Linked DNA regions of Homo sapiens: regions 2 and 3 are each reported to be linked to region 1. Evidence: microRNA targets listed by miRTarBase, many of them from high-throughput screens and not tested one by one. Region 1 holds a microRNA gene; each other region holds the end of a gene's coding sequence.

Evidence for each region. The annotated mature microRNA hsa-miR-4714-3p reads CCAACCUAGGUGGUCAGAGUUG and lies in region 1 at 5,875-5,896, opposite strand. An mRNA with a match to its seed (bases 2 to 7 or 8) in the 3' UTR can be bound and repressed. Matches are read on the target gene's strand: a 7mer-m8 pairs with bases 2 to 8, a 7mer-A1 pairs with bases 2 to 7 and ends in A, and an 8mer does both.
Region 2: miRTarBase lists BDP1 as a target of hsa-miR-4714-3p. Seed matches in the 3' UTR shown: 8mer at 6,077-6,084.
Region 3: the mRNA of GJC1 is a reported target of hsa-miR-4714-3p. Seed matches in the 3' UTR shown: 7mer-A1 at 3,157-3,163 and 7mer-A1 at 5,468-5,474.

Annotation. Positions count from the first base shown.
Region 1 is chr15:98,783,102-98,790,368 of GRCh38, reverse strand. MIR4714 (microRNA 4714) reads right to left here and starts at 5,943; the gene lies at 5,867-5,943. All of the region lies in intron 2 of IGF1R (insulin like growth factor 1 receptor), which reads right to left. It overlaps LOC124903560 (a long non-coding RNA gene), which reads left to right and starts at 6,416. Exons shown (of 2, transcript XR_007064772.1): 1 at 6,416-7,267.
Region 2 is chr5:71,563,422-71,571,075 of GRCh38, reverse strand. It overlaps BDP1 (BDP1 general transcription factor IIIB subunit), which reads right to left. Exons shown (of 39, transcript NM_018429.3): 39 at 3,256-6,322. The coding sequence ends at 6,191. Among named protein-coding and RNA genes, the nearest start is that of MCCC2, 20 kb to the left of the region's middle.
Region 3 is chr17:44,799,539-44,807,192 of GRCh38, reverse strand. GJC1 (gap junction protein gamma 1) reads left to right here. Exons shown (of 3, transcript NM_005497.4): 3 at 1,356-7,654. The coding sequence starts at 1,376. The coding sequence ends at 2,566. Among named protein-coding and RNA genes, the nearest start is that of GJC1, 27 kb to the left of the region's middle.

The DNA.
Region 1 (7,267 bases):
AAGGGAATGATCACTTGTAAGAAGAGGGAGGACAAAACTATCCCTGATGGCTCTTTCACATGTTTCTTTTAAATAAAAAGAGTGATGATCTTTCTAGGCAAGGACACAAGTTGCCCAGGCCACCCCCTTTCCCTTCAAACACCCATACCCACCTCATATGGCACATATAGTACCCCAAAATGCCAGATAAGCTGGGCCACCTCACACACTGCAATGACCAAGCCCATCTCCTCCATTGTCCTCATCCTTCCTTCGAAATCACCTGTCCCGGCCTCTTTCCAAACCCAAGTGGAACAGAGCCACTTGAACAGAGCTTCCTTCACAGAAATCCTCCGGAGGCAAAATCCTAGAGCACAAACTACATAGAAACTGAACAGTTAATGTACATTTCCTTTGGCTAAGTCACAGACACTAAATGTTGGCAGACAGAGTACATCTGAAGCAAATCAGGGCCATTTTCAGGGCAGAGACTTGCTTTTATTCTCTGAGCTCCAGCAACCCGCCTCTCTGACTTCTTCCTCCCATGGTGCTTTTCCACCCAGATAACTCGCCCCCAAAGCTGAGGACCCTCCCAAGGCCATGAAAGGGCCCTGGGTTCACCTCCACTGTCACAGAGTTTAAGAACACATGCCCTGTATAGCCTATTTTGTTTGCTTGTTTCTTTATTAAACTATAAGAGCATCATCCAATTTGAAATGCCCCTCCTCCAAAGAAAAAGCTGCGTGGCCCAATGTTAAAGGTCTACATCAGAAGTCACTGTTGCACATCATTATAATTAAGAAATGGCATATCACCTTCTTTGTAAGGTATAACATTTTCAATGTTGCAATATAAGCTGACCACCTCCTCTAAGGCGAGGACTCGGCGTCAGGGGCAGGGAGGTGGTGAGCAAAGAAAGGGCAAAAACAAGACCTTGATCACAGAAGCAAGAATCTGACATTGGATTATTTTTGAAACATACTACATACATAAGGAAAATGATGATGCTATAAATTAAAGTTGTGGTTTTCTACATTTTAAAAAAAGGCTAGCCAGCCGACCTTATCATCCCTGTCATTCCAATGGGAAAAAGCGTCATCAGCACAATTGTAGAAGCCTAGAACAATGTGTCCCTGTCAACTCAGTGAGGGTTTTCTTCTTTCAAAGATAAATCAAGATGCCATAACCTAGGAATAATATAACTACTTACACACAGAGAACAAAGTTGGCAATCACGATCTGAGTTAAGTTTAAGGTATGTTTGTCTTTCCATTTTACAAGAAGGTAAATGAACAGGAAAGTGAGCTGGAACAAGTAAACTGAGCCATAAGCCTACGTGTGCTTTTTTGTAGAAGCACAGTCTAAATACACACACGCAAGCCACTGCAAAATGACTTTCTAAGTTAAAAGTCAGAGAAATCAATGTTTGACTGACTATGGAGCATAAAAATTCTTCATTTGCTTTCATCAGCTGAAAAAAAAATGCTAGAAATAACTACGGAGAAATGGTAAAGAAAAAAATGTAATGTACACAGTTTTGCTGAAAACCATGAAGATACCAGCAGAAGAAAAAAGAAAATGAAGACGACAAATGTATTTCACACAAAGATGACCGGGGCTGTTTCTGCACAGCCTCCACCTGGAGCTGAATCACCGGCCAGAACAGGGATTAGGACAGGCCTCACTGGCCTCCCAGAGCTGTCAGACCTCAGCAGGGCGGGCGCATCCTTGGGTAGCCCAATCAAGGCTGAGCAGTATAGACCGTTTGCAAACTTGCGCAAACTGTGAAGTTATTTACATGCATTCAGGGAAAAGACTCCCCCAAACAGGGAAGCTTCTACCAAACAAATGCCTTAAAAATTATTTTATGAAAGAGATGTCTGTTATGTGTAAACAGACACTAATTGTTGCTGCACCTTGGGTAAGTGACAGGGCTCAGAGAACAGGAAGGAAGCCTGTGACTTAGCAGACAACAGGACAGTTCTTCCCTTTGACCTTCCACTGGTCCCAGATTATGACTCAGAGACTGTCTCCCACTCTTTACCCAAGGGGAGATCCCTGCACCTCCTCCTCTAACATCCTACATCTTTAAAATGCTCCTCTGAATCCCAGAACTACAGAAACCACAGCACTCGTGCTGGTGAGCAGATTCCTAATTGCAGAAGATGCATACAACTTGATGCTTTCAGATTAGAGTCTACCCATTCCTACCATGCATTTGTTCCTACACAATAGCATACGGGCATGTGTAGGAGGTCACCCCACATTCTTTATTAACTTAGAGAAATCACTATTTACACACACACACACACACACACACACACACAGAGAGAGAGAGAGAGAGAGAGAGAGAGATCCCTACCCACCATAGGAACGTGGCCTGAGGATCCAGAGGCAAATCTGCCATCAAGCGTGGTGAACAAACTAAAAACCCTACTTTCCCTTAAGCATCACCCCCATTTCTCTTTTGTCTCCCTTTCCCTCTCCAAATTCAATGTTCTCACACCACAAAGGGCCTCCAGGCACAGGAACAAAAACATATACGACTGATTCAAAAAGCAGACACATGTCCCTACCAGACACCTCCAGCTGAGTGTTCCAATTCTTTCCTTCTGAGTTGAGGATACTATTTGTTGGTGCAAAAGTAATTGCGGTAATAGAAGTTTCTGCAAAGTACTTCCAATGTGGAACCCACTTCAGTTAGAAAGTGGTGAGAGGTCTCTGTTTTAAGAGACCTAGGGTGAGAGGTCTCTGTTTTAAGGATCAATACTCTGTTTTAAGGTCTCTGTTTTAAGAGACCTAGGGTGAGAGGTCTCTGTTTTAAGGATCAATACTCTACATCTGCTTCCCAAAGGTCCAACATTTCTTGATAGCAAAGGTGGGGGGAGGGTTACAGAGCTTTTCATTTGGATTAGGAAGGGCAAAGCTCTGTGTCACCATTTTCCCTTTGCTCACGCTCCAACGCCTTCAGGATTTAGTCAGCCTGAAAGTTTCATAATTTAAGGTGGGTGGTTTTGTGAGCATGGGTTTCTGGGTTTGTTTGAAGGTGTTTTATCTGAGAGTGCTATGGGGGCACTTTCTATCCATGCCCCTAATATAGTCATGAACAAAAGTCAGGTTGGCACAGAGTGACTTTATTCTGCTCTGCAGGCCAGAAAGATTCAGGAGAGGACAAAAACAGAGACAGGTGTGCCCAGAGAATGCTGAAGTCCCACTTTTATGCCATGAATCCTTCCCAGGAGCCCAGAAAGAGAAGCTCTACTCAACTCCCTTGCCCGAGTCCCAGCCCCGAAGGAGGTCCAAGTCTCATGACCAATTACGAAGGGGCGCTGATGGAACCAGGGCGCTCTTGTGGATATTTAAACTACATTGCTGGCTCACAGAATGTCGTCACCAACCAGAAATAGTGCTATTTCAATCCGAAACCCAGGCTCTGAGCAATCCTCAAGTGGGTGAGAGAGGTAAGGAATGTCTAAGGATCAATTCTCCATGACTTGAGAAAAGGTTAGGACGGCAACAAAGTGGGGAAAGGCTTCACGTTCCACACAGGCTCTCTAGCTGCCCAGTTCTCTGTCCTACAGTCATGCAGGCACCTGCCTGATCATCTTGTGACCAGACACTGGCCCAGTTATTGGCCAGAGCACAATGTCCTCCCCAAACTATTCTAAAAAAAAATCCTATGAGTGAAAATGTACATGCAAACCTGGACTTTCTTCCCCCAATGCAACAACAACAACAAAAAAAGACAGTGGTTTTTCACTGTATTAGAGGCAACAGAGAAATCCCCTGTGTTTCCAGGTTCCTTAGAATACTTGACTGAAATAGGCTTATAGATTTTGATTCATCCACGTCTTCAAATAGGCAAAGGAGCACAAAGCAAGCACTGAGCTGGAAGGCACTTGCCACACCCGAGGCCTGGCCATTCGCTGCAGCACATGGCCTCTTTCAATGGGGCCATCTGTCCCAGAAAAATCTAGAGGTGTTTTCTTCTTTGTTTAATAAAAAAAAAAAATTAACTCCCTGGTTAACAATTAAACCACTGAGTAAAGACAATTTGCAATGTGGCTAATCATTCTGACTCTGCATTAGATGAGCCAAGGAAACCACACTGTATGTACCCTCAGGTTTTCCTCCACCTTGTTCTAAGTGTCCTGGCTTCAAACAGGTGCTGACCCCAAATGACTGGAACCAACAAAACCTGCACTGAGGTCAACTGGTGGGGAAACTGAATACTCATCTGTAGACCTAGGCAACTTGCTTTCCATGTCTGAGATTAACAAGGCTGTACTCGCTGAAGCCTAGGAGTGCACGTGATTTCTGGGGTAGCCACAGACCAAGCCCTAAAAGGGAGGGTGAGAGAGGCAGAGTCTGCAGGGGAGGGGCAGCAGCTGAAAGGCTGAGCGCTGGGACCATCCATAATTGGATTAGACAGCCGCAACCAACTGACTCTTTCAGCAGACCGAGCCCACATTGTGCTCCAGCTAGTGGTCACGTAGGTGTGCTTTGTTTTAAGGAAACCCAATACCTACATTCCTGATTTACAATACAGATGCTTTATTGGGGCACCTCACATGGTCAGACCCTCCTGCCTCTCTTTCCTTTACTGCTTGAGGTGGGTGGGGATCACTTCCTGAGCTCCAAGGAAAAATAATACAGGCTAGAGAATATTTGCATCAATAGCACAATCACAGCAGGCTAGACTGCTTTACCAACACTATCGAATTCAATCTTCAAAGTACTTCCAAAGGCATTCCATTTATTCCCAATGTACTGGTGAGGACTCTGGAAAAGTTCCACAAAACCTTTGGGGCTAAAGTCCTCTGAACGCTAAAGCCTGCGGCCCTGGGGCCAATTAACACACCTCCTATAAGTATTAAAATCTAAATTTTGCTACCCTTCCTTATGAACATTATTTTTAACTCTGGATTACCTGGGACTGAAATCATGAATGTTTTCTAGAGATTCTATTACTTGACATTCTCAAATACAGTGCACACACAACTACTTTCATATGCTACAAAGGGAAGAGGGAATTGTGACATCTGATAGAAGGATAAAGAAACTCAAGTCCAAAAGAACTGCAAGTATCTGACTGTGTACAATTAGTTCTTGGTACAAACTAGATATACAGTGTATTGTTTCCAAAAAGCATTCTGTATACAAGAAAAGTAGATTCAATTACCTAAATAACAAGATGACATTCTGATGATTTGGAGGTTAATTACTGTAAGGCACTAACCAATCAAGTCAAATTCCAGTTGCAAAATTGAATTTTAAAATTGTAATCATAAAATTACAAACTACTAGCAACTATTTCCCATGTTTAACAGCTTGCTCCCTTCTAAACACATACACATATATATATACACATGAACTTCTGTGTGTTCATATTCTTTCTGGTTTAATTCAAGTTGTCGAAAATCTAGACATGTTGTAAATACAGTCATCCCTCAGTATCCAAGGGGGATTGGTTCCAGGACTCCCACGGATACAAAATCCTTGGATGCTCAAGTCTCTGCAATAAAATGGCAGCGCTTGCATATAACGTATGCACATCGTCTCATAGACTTTCAGCCATCTCTAGCTTACAATACCCAATACAAATGCTGTATAAAAAGTTGTTATACTAGTTTTTAAATTTGTTGTCTTTATTGTTGTATTGTAATTTTTTTTTACTGTTTTTCCCCCCAAATATTCTTAATCTGTAGTTGAAGGAATCCGCAGATGTAGAACTGAAGGAGACAAAGGGCTGACTACCTGCAGTTTTACATAAGAGATTAGAATTACAATAACTCAGGTAAAGAATGTTCACAAACTGGACGCTAAACTAGGGCATATGGTCAAGTATGACTTAACCTAGACTAAATTGCTCAGCAGGAAAATGTGTATTTTGGCCAACTCTGACCACCTAGGTTGGTACACCTCATTCTGACATCAACCTAAGGGGTCAGAGTTGGCCAAAATAAAAATTCTACTAGCAGAAATTCTTTCTAGCAGTAAAAAGAAAAGGGAGATGCTCAGATATCCTGGACTCCCCAGAGGGGTAAGATTACCCCTAGGACTTCTCTGTTTACTGCCATGAGAAGAATATCAGCTTGCAGCACCATAATCCAGAGCTGAAAAAAGACTTTTTATACTTAAAAATAGGATTCAGGGGCCGGGCACGGTGGCTCACGCCTGTAATCCCAGCACTTTGAAACCAGCCTGGTCAACACGGTGAAACTCTGTCTCCACTAAAAATACAAAAATTACCCGGGTGTGGTTGCGGGTGCCTGCAATCCCAGCTACTTGGGAGGCTGAGGCAGGAGAATCGCTTGAACCCGGAAGCCAGAGGCTGCAGTGAGCTGAGACTGCGCCATTGCACTCTAGCCTGGGCAACAAAGGGAGACTCCATCTCAAAAAAAAAAAAAAAAAAAAAAAAAAAAAAAAAATTTCAGATGCCATAGTATTTGCAATAGACCAATCAAAAACTCTATGTGCATATAGCACATAAATAACTTCTAATCTAGCCTAGGAAGAAGGATAGCGTGGTACTATCTATAAACCCACTTTGTGACAGCAGCACTTTCTAGCAACAGCATCGGTATTCTCCACAAAATGTAGCAAGTGACACCTAATAAAAATAAAAGGAGTTGACATATCTTGAGCATGTATTGATAATTAGTAATAAACTAGCATAAACTAAAAAGTGAGTTCAATAAGTTGTATCTCTATATACTGGCAATGAGCAAAGAAATTAAATACTTAGGGTGTAACTCTACCAAAACATACACAGGACTACAAAAACTACAAAATGCTAATGAAGTAAATCAAAGAAAAACTAAATAAATGGAGGGACATGCCATGCTCATGGAATGTAGTACATTTACACCACAGAATACCATTCAGCAATAAAAAGAAACAAACTATTGATAAACACAGCAACCTGAATGAATCTATAAGGAATTATGCTGATGGAAAAACTTCAGTTCCAAAAGGTTACATACTATGAGTCTATTTACAGAACATTATTAAATGATAAAATTTTATATAGAGAGAACAGGTTAGTTTGTAACCAGGCATGAAGGAGAGAGGAGAGATAGAAGGGAAGTAGGTGTACCTTTGTGGTGATGACATATATCCTTACTATATTAACGTCAATATCCTAGCTGTGATACTGTACTAGTTTCACAAAATGTTACTATTGGAGGAAAATGGTGCATGGAATTACTCTTTATTATTTCTTGAAACTGCATGTGAATCTACAAGTATTTCAAAATAATTTTTTTAATGGGGGCAGGGGGAGGTC
Region 2 (7,654 bases), not on the chromosome of region 1:
TAATACTTAATACAATATGAATGCTATATAAATAGTTGTCATACTTATTTTTTATTTGTATTATTTGTTATAGTTGTATTGTTATTTTTATGTTTTATTTTTCAAATATTTCTGATCCTTGATGGGCTCAATCTCAGGATATGGAACCTGCTGATAAAGGGGGACTGGCTGTATTTATGTGCATCTTATTCAGACACCCCCTAACCATAACTCCCAAGAGGGCCTGGAGGACACTCTTTTCTTTAAAGTCTTGGTAACAGAAGCATCAGCCTCTTTAAAGAGCTGATGCAGCCACTATGATGGTTGTCCTTTGCAGACTGGAGATGATGGTGAGAGGTACTGCCAAGGAATTAGGCCCCTTGACCTCATTGGGAATACTGGAAGAAGCCAGGCAGCAATGCCGAACTGTTTTAGACCAGGTAGGCACAATTACTGTAATAAGCCATAGCAAAGGATTGACATAGTGTATTTTTACATGTGGGGATCTGTGATGATGGCTAATTGATCCCAAGGTTCCTGTTAGACTGACAGCCTTCTAAAGTGTTGCATGACACCTATAGACAAAACAATTCTAGGTCTGTTGTGCAAGAACCAAACTCAAGTCTCCATAGTGGAGAGAGCCTCATATCCAGTTTCCAGACTAAATAAATCAGGTTATAGACCCAAAGTCCCTTGACTGAGGGGGCAGATGGGAGCCTCTGAGGAAGGATTTTGTAATTGTGGCTTCATGGGTATACCATAAATCTTCCCCCAAGCCTTCTGCAGAGAGAACTATGGTTATTCATCAGGGTCTTTGCACTGGGGAAACAAAAATACTCAGCTATTTCACGGTTATTAAGATAGTGACTCTGAAATTATACTGATTTCCAGAGACCTTAAAAGCCTCTGTGATCCAGTTTTCAGAGTGAAGGCTAATGGAGGTTGCGTGAAAGATGGATTCTTGGTCTGACTTCTCACAGGAGCCCATCCTGTAATTATTTCCTCAGTCCCAGAATACACAGAAGTAGGATATAGCAGAATCATCACACAGTTTCCTTAACCCATGAGATAAGGCATTAAGGAAAGGCCAAGTAGAAGGTTTAAACCACCCCCATTCTCTGACCCACATAGTGAGTGGGATCTGTTGATTCCTACTACATTTCCATTTGATTCACCAGCTTGGCCAGCTGTTCAAGTCAGACAGGTCCGAATGAACAATGTTTCACATTTTTTTGTTTTGTGTGTTGGTGTTGGTGTTACACCTTAGGATCACCTGCAGATTTTTTTTTTAAATGGAGATGTCTGACGCCCACCCCCAGGCACTGCGAGTGTGTGTGTTTTCTAATTATTTTGAGACAGGGTCTCCCTCTTTCACCCACGCTGGAGTACAGTGGCACAATATCAGCGTACTGCAACCTCCACCTCTGGGCTCAAGTGATCCTCCCACCTCAGCCTCTCCAGTAGCTGGGACCACAGGCGCGTGCTAGCACACCTGGCTAATTTTTGCATTTTAGTAGACAAGGGGTTTTGCCATGTTGCCCAGGCTAGTCTCAAACTCCTGGGCTCAAGCGATCCTCCCATCTCGGCCTCCCAAAGTGCTAGGATTACAGGCGTGAGCCACTGTGCCTGGCCCTATTATTTTTTAATGTTTTTTAGCAACAGGGTCTCACTCTGTGACCCAGGCTGGCACGATCATACCTCACTGCAACCCTGAACTCCTGGGCTCAAGCAATCTTCCTGCCTCAGCCTCTCAAGTAGCTGGGACCACAGGCACACACCACCATGTTCTGCTAGTTTTTGCTTTGTTTTGTTTGTAGAGATAAGGTCTCGCTATGTCTCGCCTCAGCCTCCCAAAATGCTGGGATTACAGGCATGAGCCACTGCACCCAGACACTGATTTAACAATAAGGGATACCACTTGGACACAGAAACTTTTTAAAGCTTCCCAGGTGAGTCTGATGTGCAATAAAGTTTGGGAACCACTGGTCTTGGGGAATGACAATAAGTTATCACAGATTTAACAAATGATGTCAATCACAGCTGCAGTTGGCGATTGGTACCTTTATTAGACCAAATCAACACAACTCCTAATACCTGGAATAAAGCTAGTGCCATGAAAAAAATGCAACATTTTCCATTCCAGTAAGAAAAATTAAAAGAACTTGAATTATTGTGGCAGGGACAACTGATTTTACTGTCTTACTTCAGAGTGATATGAATACCCTCATTTTCTTTCATTATATAGTCTGGAGAGACTTTTATTTTCTTGATTTTTGACAAAAAAATGAAATGTGACATGTATAACATTATGCTAACTGGAGCTGGAAAGCACGAATTAGCAAGCAGCTAGATGTCTTAGGAAGACATACATATATAAGAGGTTGGGAGGTAAATACTGTTAAAGTTCAGGAGCCTGCCACATAGGTGAATCTCCTAAGGGTCTAGTGGTCTGAGGACATGGGATCTATTTTTGAAGGGAAGAAACAAGCTACCCAGGCATGACGGCTCACCTACCTGGGAGGATTGCTCGCACCCAGAAGTTCGAGGCTGCAGTGAGCTATGATCACGCCACCACACTCCAGCCTGGGCAACAAAGCGAAACCCCATCTCTTAAACAAAGGCAGTGGGGAGAGGGAGACAAGATTCTGCACCTTGCACTGGTCACCATGAAGACAGAAGCAACAATGTTTGAAGTCGCCCTTTGAGTTTGAGATAAAATATATTTGGGAATACTACCCCAACCTACTTACTGGGTAGCCCGTAAGACTGCCGATTTTTAGTGAAACCCAATGTAAGACAGGGCTCTCCAGCAGATTCAGGATGCGATGCTGCAGCAAACAGAGATGCTGTGTGGAGTCTCTTCCAAATACTATTAGGACAATCACATTGCAGACTCCTACAGCTTTGAAATAACGACATGCACACCTGTCAAAAATTTGTCTCCTCCCCACAAAGACAGGGTCTTCTTCTGTCATCCAGGCTGGAGTGTGGTGGGGCAATCACAGCTCACTGCAGCCTCAACCTCCTCCTGGGCTCAAGCGAACCTCTCATCCCAGCCTCCTGAGTAACTGGGACCAAAAGCACACACCACCACAGTTGGCTGATTTTTAATTTTTTTGTAGAGATGAGGTCTCATTATGTTGCCCAGGCTGGTCTTGAACTCCTGGGCTCAAGCAATCCTCCCACCTCGGCCTCCGAAAGTGCTGGGATTACAGGTGTAAGCCACGATACCCAGCCAATTCTTTATTTAGTCATCTTAAAAGGACACAACAGAAATGATATAAAATAACTTTTATTTACATAATTTATATATATATATAACTGCTTTCTTTAGAACAAGAAAATTTATAAATGACATGATATTGCTTTTTCTGTCAAAGACTTCTTCAAGCAAGATAGTATACATGGTCACTTTTGTTTCAAATAACATGATGGTAAACAGTGGATATTAATATTTTTGTCATGCCTCAACCATTTACCAACAATTAGGCGTTCAAATCCTCATGTTGACCACTTGCTAAGACATAAGTGTTCAGGAGAAAAAGTCAAGAAAAGATAAAAACTTTTACTCATATCTCCTTTAAAATTTGTGAAATAAATCCTTTGCAACATCTTCTTCACATGAATCAGACCTAACATAGTTCTTTCCAACATGTAAGGTAAATACATTGATTAACTTTCTCTTTTCCAAAATTAGGTTTAAGGATTTAACAGTAGGATACTTTAGCTGGCTGACTTGATTCTCTAATACAATGAGTCTCTGTATTCTTTATATAGTAAGAAATTCCATTTTCCATAAAACTAGCTCATTATAGATTAAAAAGAAACAGATGTTAAAGTTAAAAACTAATATTACACAAGGATAAATAATAGTTTAATCATGGCAATCTAACTCCCAAGCTAACACTAAGAGAATGAAATCTTTTCAGAATATGAGTTTTAAAAACTTACAAAAACAGGGTATTCAAATAGCAATGTGATTTACTACCATGATTTCTGTGACATATCAATCATGAAATAAATGCCTACTTATAGACAATTTCCGCTCCGAATTATATAGCCTCCTCTCTGACAAAGTGTTACGCCATAAATTTCACTAAAAGACAATGAATAAGAAGTGCTCTAACAGCAGTAGTTTCAATAAATTAGCATTACTGTTATATGTGCTGAGACATAATTCTCTTCTATTAAGGAACTTAAAAACTGGCCACCATTTTTTCAATATACAAACATAATTATCTAGACTCTAAAATATCTTCCCAACTGAAATACTGATCATTACATAATACAGTCAACAGTTTTAACTTTTAGGCACAACTCATAACTTTAGTGACAAATAACTCATCCATACAGATATCAGCACCTCAGGGTAAGAAAATTTGGGGCCTAATGTAGGGGGTCAAACTAAAAGGCCAATCCAGCCACAGTCCTTCATTCAAGTACTGTCTATGGCTTCTTTCACACTGAAATTGCAGAGCTGAGTAGCTGCCACAGAGACCATCTGGCCTGCAAACCCAAAACAGTTTGCAGAAAGTTTCCAATGCCTGAGCTACTATACTATCAATCCAAGAGGCTTTTCAAATAAAATCAGGATAAATTTGCTGTTTGAGAAGTCTAATTGGAACCACTACAGATCTGCTTGGGTAGATAATAGAATTACACGTATAAAAAATCAAATCTTGAAATTAAAACAAACCTTAAATTCATACTGATGATAATCATTAACTTTATAAAGCCTTATTTTCTCTGTTTTTAACATCATGATTATGTTCCGTGCTTAAAGATCCAAGTGTTCCTTGAGAATTTAATGGGAAAAAACTATGAAGAAATTGGCTTTTTAAAAACTAATATTATGTCTGTGGGTGTATAAAGGAGATTGAGCTTTGTATGGAAATTTTGTCTCATAAATAAAGTTGAGTTCCCCCTATCCTCATGAAAATCCTGAGATTATCCAAGAAAAGCAGAAAAATTTACAGTACAAAGTCAATATACTAAACTGAGGGGAAAAAGGTATTCAAAACATATACACCAGCTAAACATTTTTAGTTATATCATTTTAAATATCTTTAAAATTAAACAGAAAAAGGAGACAAACATAAATTTAATGCCTTCTTTATCTACAATCTGAGGGGTAAAAATAGCTAAAACTGAATATCCTTTTAAATAAAAAATTTAAAAATAAATAAGCCCTTTGATGTGTCATCTTTATAAATAATTATGTTTAAATACTAGTTTTTCAATTAGGACTAATGTTACATCACCATGAATTAGAAAAATATGTATTTTTCAGTCAGACAAACAGCTGATAATAGAAAAGTTCTTTAACATTTGCCATACTAAAGTGAAGTTTGACAATTTGTTTTCACATATAGTCACGTGTCCCTTAACTACATGTTCTAAGAATTGCCTTGTTAGGTGATCTTGTGTGAAACAACGCAGAGTGTACTTACAAACACTGAGATGGTACAGGCTGCTACACACCGTACAGACTGAGGCTATGTGGTATAGCCTATTGCTCCTCGGCTACAAACCTCTACAATGTGTTACTATGCTGAATACTGTAGGCAGTTGTAACACAATAGTAAGTATTTGTGTATCTAAACATATCTAAACATAAAAAAGCAATGCACTGTGTTATGATGGCTATAATGTCACTAGTTGATAGGAATTTATCTCCATTTTAATTGCATGGGACCACTGTAATATATGTGGTCCATCATTGACTTAAACTTCATTATGTGATACATGACTGTACTTAGAAGCAAATGAAAAAGCCTTCATCCTTCATCATCTCCCCCTAAAAATAAAAAATCTTCACAAAAGAAGTTGCTAAATGTTAAATATGATACAATTAACCCCCAAATCTGTCTGCACTGCAATTCATACAGAGACATATATCCACAACATTCCCAAATGTCCATGTGTGCTTAGCACAGGAAGAGTCAAAATGTAAACAAGAGTTGTTATTTCTGTCTGAGAAAGCAGTCTTAATTGCTTGCTATTTGCAAAATGCTGAATCAGTCAGAATGAAAGGAACCTCAGAAATGTTTTCCACTGATTATAAAAGCTTCAAATCAAGCTCATTAAGTATTCAAAATCAACCTAAAGAAAAATAAGACAGTGATATTTTGCTCTAAATACTGTTTTGTTGATGTAATTGACTCTGGAAATCCTAGACCTAATTTAAAAAAGAAAAAGAGAAAAGATTGTTTTATTCTGTTTCATCCACTTCAATGAAGATATCATTGAAGAAATATTCAGAGACTGTGGTTGCCTCCCCTTGAGGGGCCCGCTTTTGGGCACTTTTATATCCTTCTTTCAGTAAGGGCTGATCACAAGAAACCTAAAAAGGTAATAAAAATAAAGTAAAAATAAAACTGTAATACAACATTTATATATATATGTGTGTGTATATATAGCAGTCTAAACCAATATGATCTGTTTGAAAAGCAACGTGGCAATAAATATTGAGCTTTAAATATGTTCACAATCACTGACCCAAAAATTTCACTTCTATGCTGTTACATTAAGTAAATAATCCTAAACATAGTAGGAGTTTTATGACTAAGATAACCTTTGTAGCATTAGTTATAATAATAAAATAGGAAGCAACTAAATATACCACACTAGATATAATTAGGTAAATTACAGTGTACCCATAATCCATTACTTCATCCTAATTTCCATGAAAAATTTTAATAAAGAAAAATATAATATGGTTAAATCTGTCACTAAATAAAGTAAAAATACTTTAATTATTTGCATAATAGACAGACCCATGACAAAACAGCACCTAAAGAAAACATATCAAAGATACCTTATCAGAAATTAGCATACTTACAAATCTATAAACAAATTAAGACAGCATGGTATTGGCACACGAATGACAGATATATCAATGAAACAGAAGACTAGAAATAACCCCAATATATATAGAAATTTAGCATCTGATAAAAGTGCCATATCAAAAACAGTTATTGTATTATTAAATAAATGATGTTGGACAACTATATAACCATCTCAGGGGGAAAAAAGTCAGACCAATACCTTACCAAAACAAATTCTAGATGGATCAAAAGATTTAAATGTAAAAGTATTTTTTAAAAAACTCTACTATAAAAATGCCATGGAAAAACACTTTTATAATTCTGGACGGAGGTAGGTGGGGAAGGGTACCTTTTTATTTATTTATTTATTTTAAGACAAAGCCAGGCTGGAATGCAATGGCATGATCTCAGCCCACTGCAACCTCCACCTCCCGGGTTCAAGCAATTCTCTTATCTCAGCCTCCCAAGTAGCTGGGACTACAGGCACACACCACCGTGCCTGATTAAATTTTGTATTTTGGTAGAGATGGGGTTTTGCCATGTTGGCCAGGCTGGTCTCAAACTCCTCACCTCAGGTGATCTGCCCGCCTTGGCCTCCCAAAGTGCTGGGATTACAGGCGTGAGCCACCGCACCCAGCTGGGAAGAGTACCTTTTTAAACTATCTGAAAGCAGAAAGCTATAAAAGATTGACAAATTAAACAGAAATAAAAAATGTCTGCTTGACAAAAACCACCATAAATAAAATCAAAAGACAAATGACATACAGAGAAAAAAAAAATTGCAATCTTTATCACAAAGGGCCTTTTTCCCTGAATATAATAAGAACACTACAGGCCAGGCACAGTGG
Region 3 (7,654 bases), not on the chromosome of region 1:
CTTTAAAATGCTGTTTTAAATGGATTTGCTGTTGATTGGATTTAATGTCCTCACAGTTCAGTTTAGCAATCATTTTTTAATGTCTACCATAAATAAGGTACAGAAGTATAATTTGTAGATTCTGTTATATAGTAAAGGGGTACAATATTTATTGCAAGACCATTTACTGGGCTTCTAAGTAAAACCAAAATCTGGTATGCGATGCAGCCTAGCTAGGGAAGATCTTCCTAGTTCCCTTCTGTCTTTTGTTTTAGTTCTTAATGATTGCCAGCAGTTTGTAGCTGTACCATCTTCTTAATCCCTTTTAGCACTTGTCTAAAATTTAAGTTTCCTAATAAATCACCCCTTCACAGTGGAGTCCAACCGAGGTGTCCCCTTTATGTTCTCAGTGGTGGTTTTTCTGTGATTGGACCGAATAACTATACCTGTGTGTTTTTTAAATTTCTATCTCACAAAATTCTGAAGGTCTCATGAAATAATAGTATGTGTAAAGAACCTAGGTCTGGCCAGGCATGGTGGTTCACGCCTGTAATCCCAGCACTTTGAGAGGCCAAGGCAGGCGGATCACCTGAGGTCAGGAGTTCGAGACCAGCCTGGCCAACATGGTGAAACCCCATCTCTACTAAAAATACAAAAATGATGGTGCATGACTGTAATCCCAGATACTCGGGAGGCTGAGGCACAAGAATCACTTGAACCTGGGAGGCGGAGGTTGCAGTGAGCCAAGATCACGCCACTGCACTGCAGCCTGAGCGAAAGAGGGAAACTGTCTCAAAAAAAAAAAAAAAAAACAAACAGAAGAACCAAGGTCTGAGAAATATCTCAGTAAATAGTAGCTACAAGTTTACCTTTTAAACCAGAGGAGATATGAAAGCAATCCATACTTTCTGGGACCTTGTGGGGCCAACAGGTGTTGACTGAGGTGAATTGACCTTCTTGAAGATAGTAGAGAGTGAGATGCTGTTTATTCTTTTTTTTTGAGATGGAGTCTTGCTCTGTTCAAGCAATTCTCCTGTCTCAGCCTCCTGAGCTGCTGGGATTACAGGTGCACACCACCGTGCCCGGGTAATTTTTGTATTTTTGTAGAGACGGAGTTTCACCATGTTGACCAGGCTGGTCTTTAACTCCTGACCTCAACTAATCTGCCCGCCTTGGCCTCCCAAAGTGCTGGGATTACAGGCGTGAGCCACCCTACCCAACTGAGATGCTGTTTATTCTAACATTTGTTCCACTGTGAACCTTGAGGTTAGATTTCAAGTATTCAAAGCAGTAGTTCCTAGAGATATCATAATTAGTAATTAAATTAAGATTTAATATTTGTTGATTTTATTTTGGTATTTTTCCACTTTTATCAGGGCATACCAATTCAATCACCATGAGTTGGAGCTTCCTGACTCGCCTGCTAGAGGAGATTCACAACCATTCCACATTTGTGGGGAAGATCTGGCTCACTGTTCTGATTGTCTTCCGGATCGTCCTTACAGCTGTAGGAGGAGAATCCATCTATTACGATGAGCAAAGCAAATTTGTGTGCAACACAGAACAGCCGGGCTGTGAGAATGTCTGTTATGATGCGTTTGCACCTCTCTCCCATGTACGCTTCTGGGTGTTCCAGATCATCCTGGTGGCAACTCCCTCTGTGATGTACCTGGGCTATGCTATCCACAAGATTGCCAAAATGGAGCACGGTGAAGCAGACAAGAAGGCAGCTCGGAGCAAGCCCTATGCAATGCGCTGGAAACAACACCGGGCTCTGGAAGAAACGGAGGAGGACAACGAAGAGGATCCTATGATGTATCCAGAGATGGAGTTAGAAAGTGATAAGGAAAATAAAGAGCAGAGCCAACCCAAACCTAAGCATGATGGCCGACGACGGATTCGGGAAGATGGGCTCATGAAAATCTATGTGCTGCAGTTGCTGGCAAGGACCGTGTTTGAGGTGGGTTTTCTGATAGGGCAGTATTTTCTGTATGGCTTCCAAGTCCACCCGTTTTATGTGTGCAGCAGACTTCCTTGTCCTCATAAGATAGACTGCTTTATTTCTAGACCCACTGAAAAGACCATCTTCCTTCTGATAATGTATGGTGTTACAGGCCTTTGCCTCTTGCTTAACATTTGGGAGATGCTTCATTTAGGGTTTGGGACCATTCGAGACTCACTAAACAGTAAAAGGAGGGAACTTGAGGATCCGGGTGCTTATAATTATCCTTTCACTTGGAATACACCATCTGCTCCCCCTGGCTATAACATTGCTGTCAAACCAGATCAAATCCAGTACACCGAACTGTCCAATGCTAAGATCGCCTACAAGCAAAACAAGGCCAACACAGCCCAGGAACAGCAGTATGGCAGCCATGAGGAGAACCTCCCAGCTGACCTGGAGGCTCTGCAGCGGGAGATCAGGATGGCTCAGGAACGCTTGGATCTGGCAGTTCAGGCCTACAGTCACCAAAACAACCCTCATGGTCCCCGGGAGAAGAAGGCCAAAGTGGGGTCCAAAGCTGGGTCCAACAAAAGCACTGCCAGTAGCAAATCAGGGGATGGGAAGACCTCCGTCTGGATTTAATCCTGGCGGGCTTAAAACCTGTGCTTTTCATAGTTTATGGTAAGCAGCAGCTCACTGAATAATGACTTCCATTGAGTAAACATTTGGCTCTGGTTATCTTCAGGGATGCTGTTGGCTCATGATCCAAGCTCAGGGGACTCTGGAGGCGGGGCTGGGCTGAGGGAGAGAAAGGGAAACACAGTGTTCCCAGGCACATGTTCTTAGCAATAATACAGTTGCAGAACTTTACATTTGTGTCTTCCAGATCTGGAGAAGAACAGACATATTTAAATCATTCTTGTTGAACAGTTTTTGTATGTACAGTATTATGGTACTTTTTTTTTTTTAGTATGAGAACTTTTTTTGTATTTGTACATTGAACTGCTGTAGTTATACTTTTATATTAAAGGGGAAAAAGTCCTTATAAATAATGCCTATTAGGCTAGTGCTATTACTTTGTTCAGCAAATTCTACCCTGGCTTTAGAGTTTTTAATAGATGCTACACCTAATAAAAGTGCCTCTCATATTGCAGGAACGATTTCAGATGTGTAAGGAGACTGAAGAGGAGATACCAGTTTTTAGTCTTGGAAAGCAAGTTCACAGTAGAAGGAGGTTGAGATCTTTCTTTTATGTGAGAAATCTTTGAATCTCATTCATGCGATCAGAGTTGTAGCCAATTTTTGAAAACCTTATTTTCAAAGGAAATAAATGATTCACTGTAGGATTCCTTTAAATATCAAGCATCACCAGTATATGCTTTGATGGTATATGTATATAACTTAAAGTTCTTTCAAAAGCCTGATACAGAAACGTGTCCCCAGTTTGGTAGCAATGTGGAAAACCTGGCTAGAGATGATATGGAGCTGTCCCTCAGAAAGCAAAGCCATGCCTGGAATCCCTAATAGGCTGCTTAGTTGTGAACCTGTTTGATTTGCCTTAAGCCTCTATCCAGAAACCTGCCCGCTTCCGTCTGGTTAAGAAGCCAGTGGTGGATATTTTCTTTGTTAACATTAGAAATGCAAACATTCCCTTGTCAACCAAGAATACTCAAAGCTACTTGTATTGGAAATGGCAGAAGGCCTAAATCCAAATTTCTTATTTTTTATAATTTACCATAGAAGTTTTGTGATTAAATTCTTACTTCTGCCAGTGGAGGTTTATGCCTGAAAGGTCATGGGGTCCTGTCTGTAAATAGACCTAAAGAGAAGTGCAGTATTTATTCTTTGTAGGCATAATGTGTTTGTCACTGACAAGCATTCATGTTCATCCCACTAGTCTTTTATTGCAGTCTTTTATTGTCATTTTCAGCCTTATGTTGGAGAGCTTTGCTTTCTCATCATGTTCACATTGTCTTAAGTTTTGTGAGCTTCTGAGAAAGAGCTTGGTAAAGGTTTAAAGGGGACTTTGTTCCACCAGGGAGCATTTTATTTGGGCGTCTCACCCTTTTCTAATGAAAGCTGTTGTAAGCCACCTCTGACTTGGAAATTCTGAAAGTATGAATATTTTTTATATCTTAATTGTAAAATGCCAGTTCTCCATTATTTAGATGAATAGTAGAACACTGCACCCTTTGTGCAGTGTTTTTGTTTCTCTACTGCATTCCTACCCCCACCAAAAAAAAGAAACTTAAGGAAATTTTTTTTTGAGACAGGGTCTCCCTCTTTCACCCAGGCTGGAGTGCAGCAGCATGATCTCAGCTCACTGCAGCCTCTGCCTCCCAGGCTCAAGCAATCATTCCACCTCAGCCTCTTGATTAGCTGGGACTACAGGCATGTGCCACCATACTCGGCTAATTCTGTTTTAAAAATTTTTTTTGTAGAGATGAGGTCTCACTATGTTACCCAGGCTGGTCTCGAACTTTTGGGTTCAAGTGATCCTCCCGCCTCAGCCTCTCAAAGTGTTAGTATTATAGGTGTGAGCCACCATGCCCAGCCTAGAAAATTTAACCTTATCTTTTAGCCATTCATTTACTTTTATTTGCTTTTTTAAAAAAAAATCTTTAAATTTTAGCCTAGAGAAGCACCTCAGGAACTCTAAACATCTTAGGCAAAAATTAAACTCAGGTGAGACTGAAGGAGAAATTTCAGAAATACACATGTACCTCATGGGTAATTAATAGACATGCACAGTTTCCTTCAAATCAAATGTTTAATAAGGAAATTCATATAATTCCAAGAAAACAGGCAAAATTTGGAATACATAAGCCTAGCTAAGATAAAGAACTACCAGTTAATTCTTAACATCACTGGAGCTTCCAGCAGGTTTTTTAATTGAAGGACAAAAAGTGTCCATACATTTGTGTTATCTCTTCAGAGCCTGAGGGAGAAGAGAGTGGCTTTGCCCAGTGGAAAGGCTGGGGATTTGAGAATGATACAGGGGGAAGGAGTCAAGCAGAAATGCCAGGAAGAACCAGGCAAAGACATTTGGCGCCAGAAGCATCCACTTAATTTCTGTGAAGAGTGCCCCTGGTGTTTCATCTTGGCCTGTTTTGATGAGAATGTTATCTTTTGTGTCTGGATAACGCGTCAGCTTCTTAAAGTACATATAAAGATATTCTGTCACCTCCCCACATGCACACACTTTTAAAATCTATTTTTATTCTCTTGCTAAAGTTGTAATTATGTCAAGAATTTTCCAGCTCTAACTGCCTTCTTAGTACATGTCTTTCTGCCTTTGAAGCATATGAGTTTGCCAAAGTCATTCTCCCCTAATGACATATTGTGGACTTACATTAAGAAAATGGGCCAGGCGCGGTGGCTCACACCTGTAATCCCAGCACTTTAGGAGGCCCAGGCGGGTGGATTACCTGAGGTCAGGAGTTCAAGACCAGACTGGTCAACATGGTGAAACTCCATCTCTACTAAAAATACAGAAATTAGCCAGGAGTGCTGGGTGGACGCCTGCAATCCCAGCTACTTGGGAGGTTGAGGCAGGAGAATTGCTTGAACCCAGGAGGCAGAGGTTGCAGTGAGCTGAGATCATACCATTGCACTCCAGCCTGCAAGACAGAGTGAAACTCTTGTCTCAAAAAAAAAAAAAGAAAAAAAGAAAGTGAGCCTGTTGATGTCTAGCTAACCCATTGGTGGAGTCTGCATTGAATCTGTAAGAATATTGTTCTGGATCATGCAGGTGGGATTTGTATAAAAAGCCTGTCCAACATTTAGTTCTCACTCGCATCAGAATCATACTGTTTTGAATTGCCATATAAGACATGCTCCATCATGACACTTGCTTCTCCTCCAAATACAAGTTGAGTGCTTAGTCCTTCACCTGCTAGAATCAGGATACAATCAACATGATTATGTTCCTTAACACACTTGGATTTATGCAGATGTGGTGTGTCCTTTGCTCTTTTTTTTCTTAAGACAGAGTCTTGCTCTTGTCGCTCAGGCTGGAGTGCAGTGGTGTGATTTCGGCTCACTGCAACCTCCGCCTCCTGGGTTCAAGCGATTCTCCTGCCTCAGCCTCCCGAGTAGCTGGGATTACAGGCACCACCACCATACCAGGCTGATTTTTTTTGTATTTTTAATATAGACAGGGCTTCATCATGTTGGCCAGGCTGGCAGGCTGGTCTCGAACTCCTCACCTCGTGATCCGCCCACCTCAGCTTCCCAAAGTGCTGTGATTACAGGCGTGAGCCACCGCGCCTGGCCTGCTCTTAAAACCCGTTATTCAGAAGATTTGTAAAAGAAATAGGCTTTTTTTTTTTTTTTGGTTAATTCAAACGAGGGGAAAATTAGATAGCATTTTCCCCTAAAGAAATGTTAATGTTCATTTTGTGGCTTTGTTTTCAAGTTTCAGGAGCCATGTACATCTCAGAAGTGTTACGAAGTGATTAGAAAAGGCCTCTGGTAAAAGACCTTCAAGGACCAACCATTATTATTGGTCACTTGTTTGAACTTGGCGCTTAAAAAAAAAGTTGGACTGTGATGCTTTGGTGCTCTTTATCACAGACATCAGTGATGGTCTGAAACACTCTCTAGCAGTTTATACGAAGAATGGACTTACATGTTATCAGTTACACTCATGATTTACTCGTTCAGCTTCTACAAGTCCATACTTTATGCTGTCTCATTTAAGAGACAGTCCACTTCTGAAAATAAAATCGATAGTTGATGATACATTTTTGGCTAGCCAGCTTTCTGTAAAAGGCAAGTATGTTAGACATGCACAGTTTCCTTCAAATCAAATGTTTAATAAGGTACTTCAAGAAACGCCTTTTTAAAAATCAAAGGTTTTGGCCAGGCATGGTGGCTCACGCCTGTAATCCCAGCACTTTGGGAGGCCAAGGTGGGCGAATCACAAGGTCAGGAGTTTGAGACCAGCCTGGCCAACATGGTGAAACCCCGTCTCTACTAAAAATACCAAAAATTAGCCGGGCGTGGTGGTGGGTACCTGTAATCCCAGCTACTCAGGAGGCTGAGATGAGAATCACTTGATCCCAGGAGGTAGAGGTTGCAGTGAGCCGAGATTGCGCCATTGCACTTCAGCCTGGGCAACGAGTGAAACTCTCAAAAAAAAATTCATAGTAATAATAAAGTCCCTGCATGCAGTTTGGAAATAAAATTTAAACTCATTTATGTGTAATAAATATGTAATAATTCACAGTCACCATCAAATGTTGGAATCATTGAATTGCATACTTGTACTCATTCCGGCCACATCATGAAGTGTTTAAAGATTTGTATTTGCTGTTGTCCCTATGTAGTTCTATTGATGTTTGGTTTTGTTTTTTGGGGTTTGTTTTGAGCCCAGGCTAGAGTGCAATGGCACAATCTCAACTCACTACAGCCTGGACCTCCTTGGCTCAAGCAGTCCTCCCACTTCAGCCTCCCAAGTAGCTGGTCTGCAAGTGCTCACCACCACACCTGGCTAATTTTTGTATTTTTTGTAGAGACAGAGCTCTCACTATGTTGCCTAGACTGGTCTCAAACTCCTGGGCCCAAGCAATCCTCCCATCACAGCCTCCGAAGGTGCTGGGATTACAGGCATAAGCCACTGTGCCCAGCCTGTTTTTAATAATGATATTAAGTGGGTTTGGTTCATGTGTTATTAATCAGTGTTAATAATCGTACTTTTTTTTTTTTTTAAAAGAAACCATGGTATTC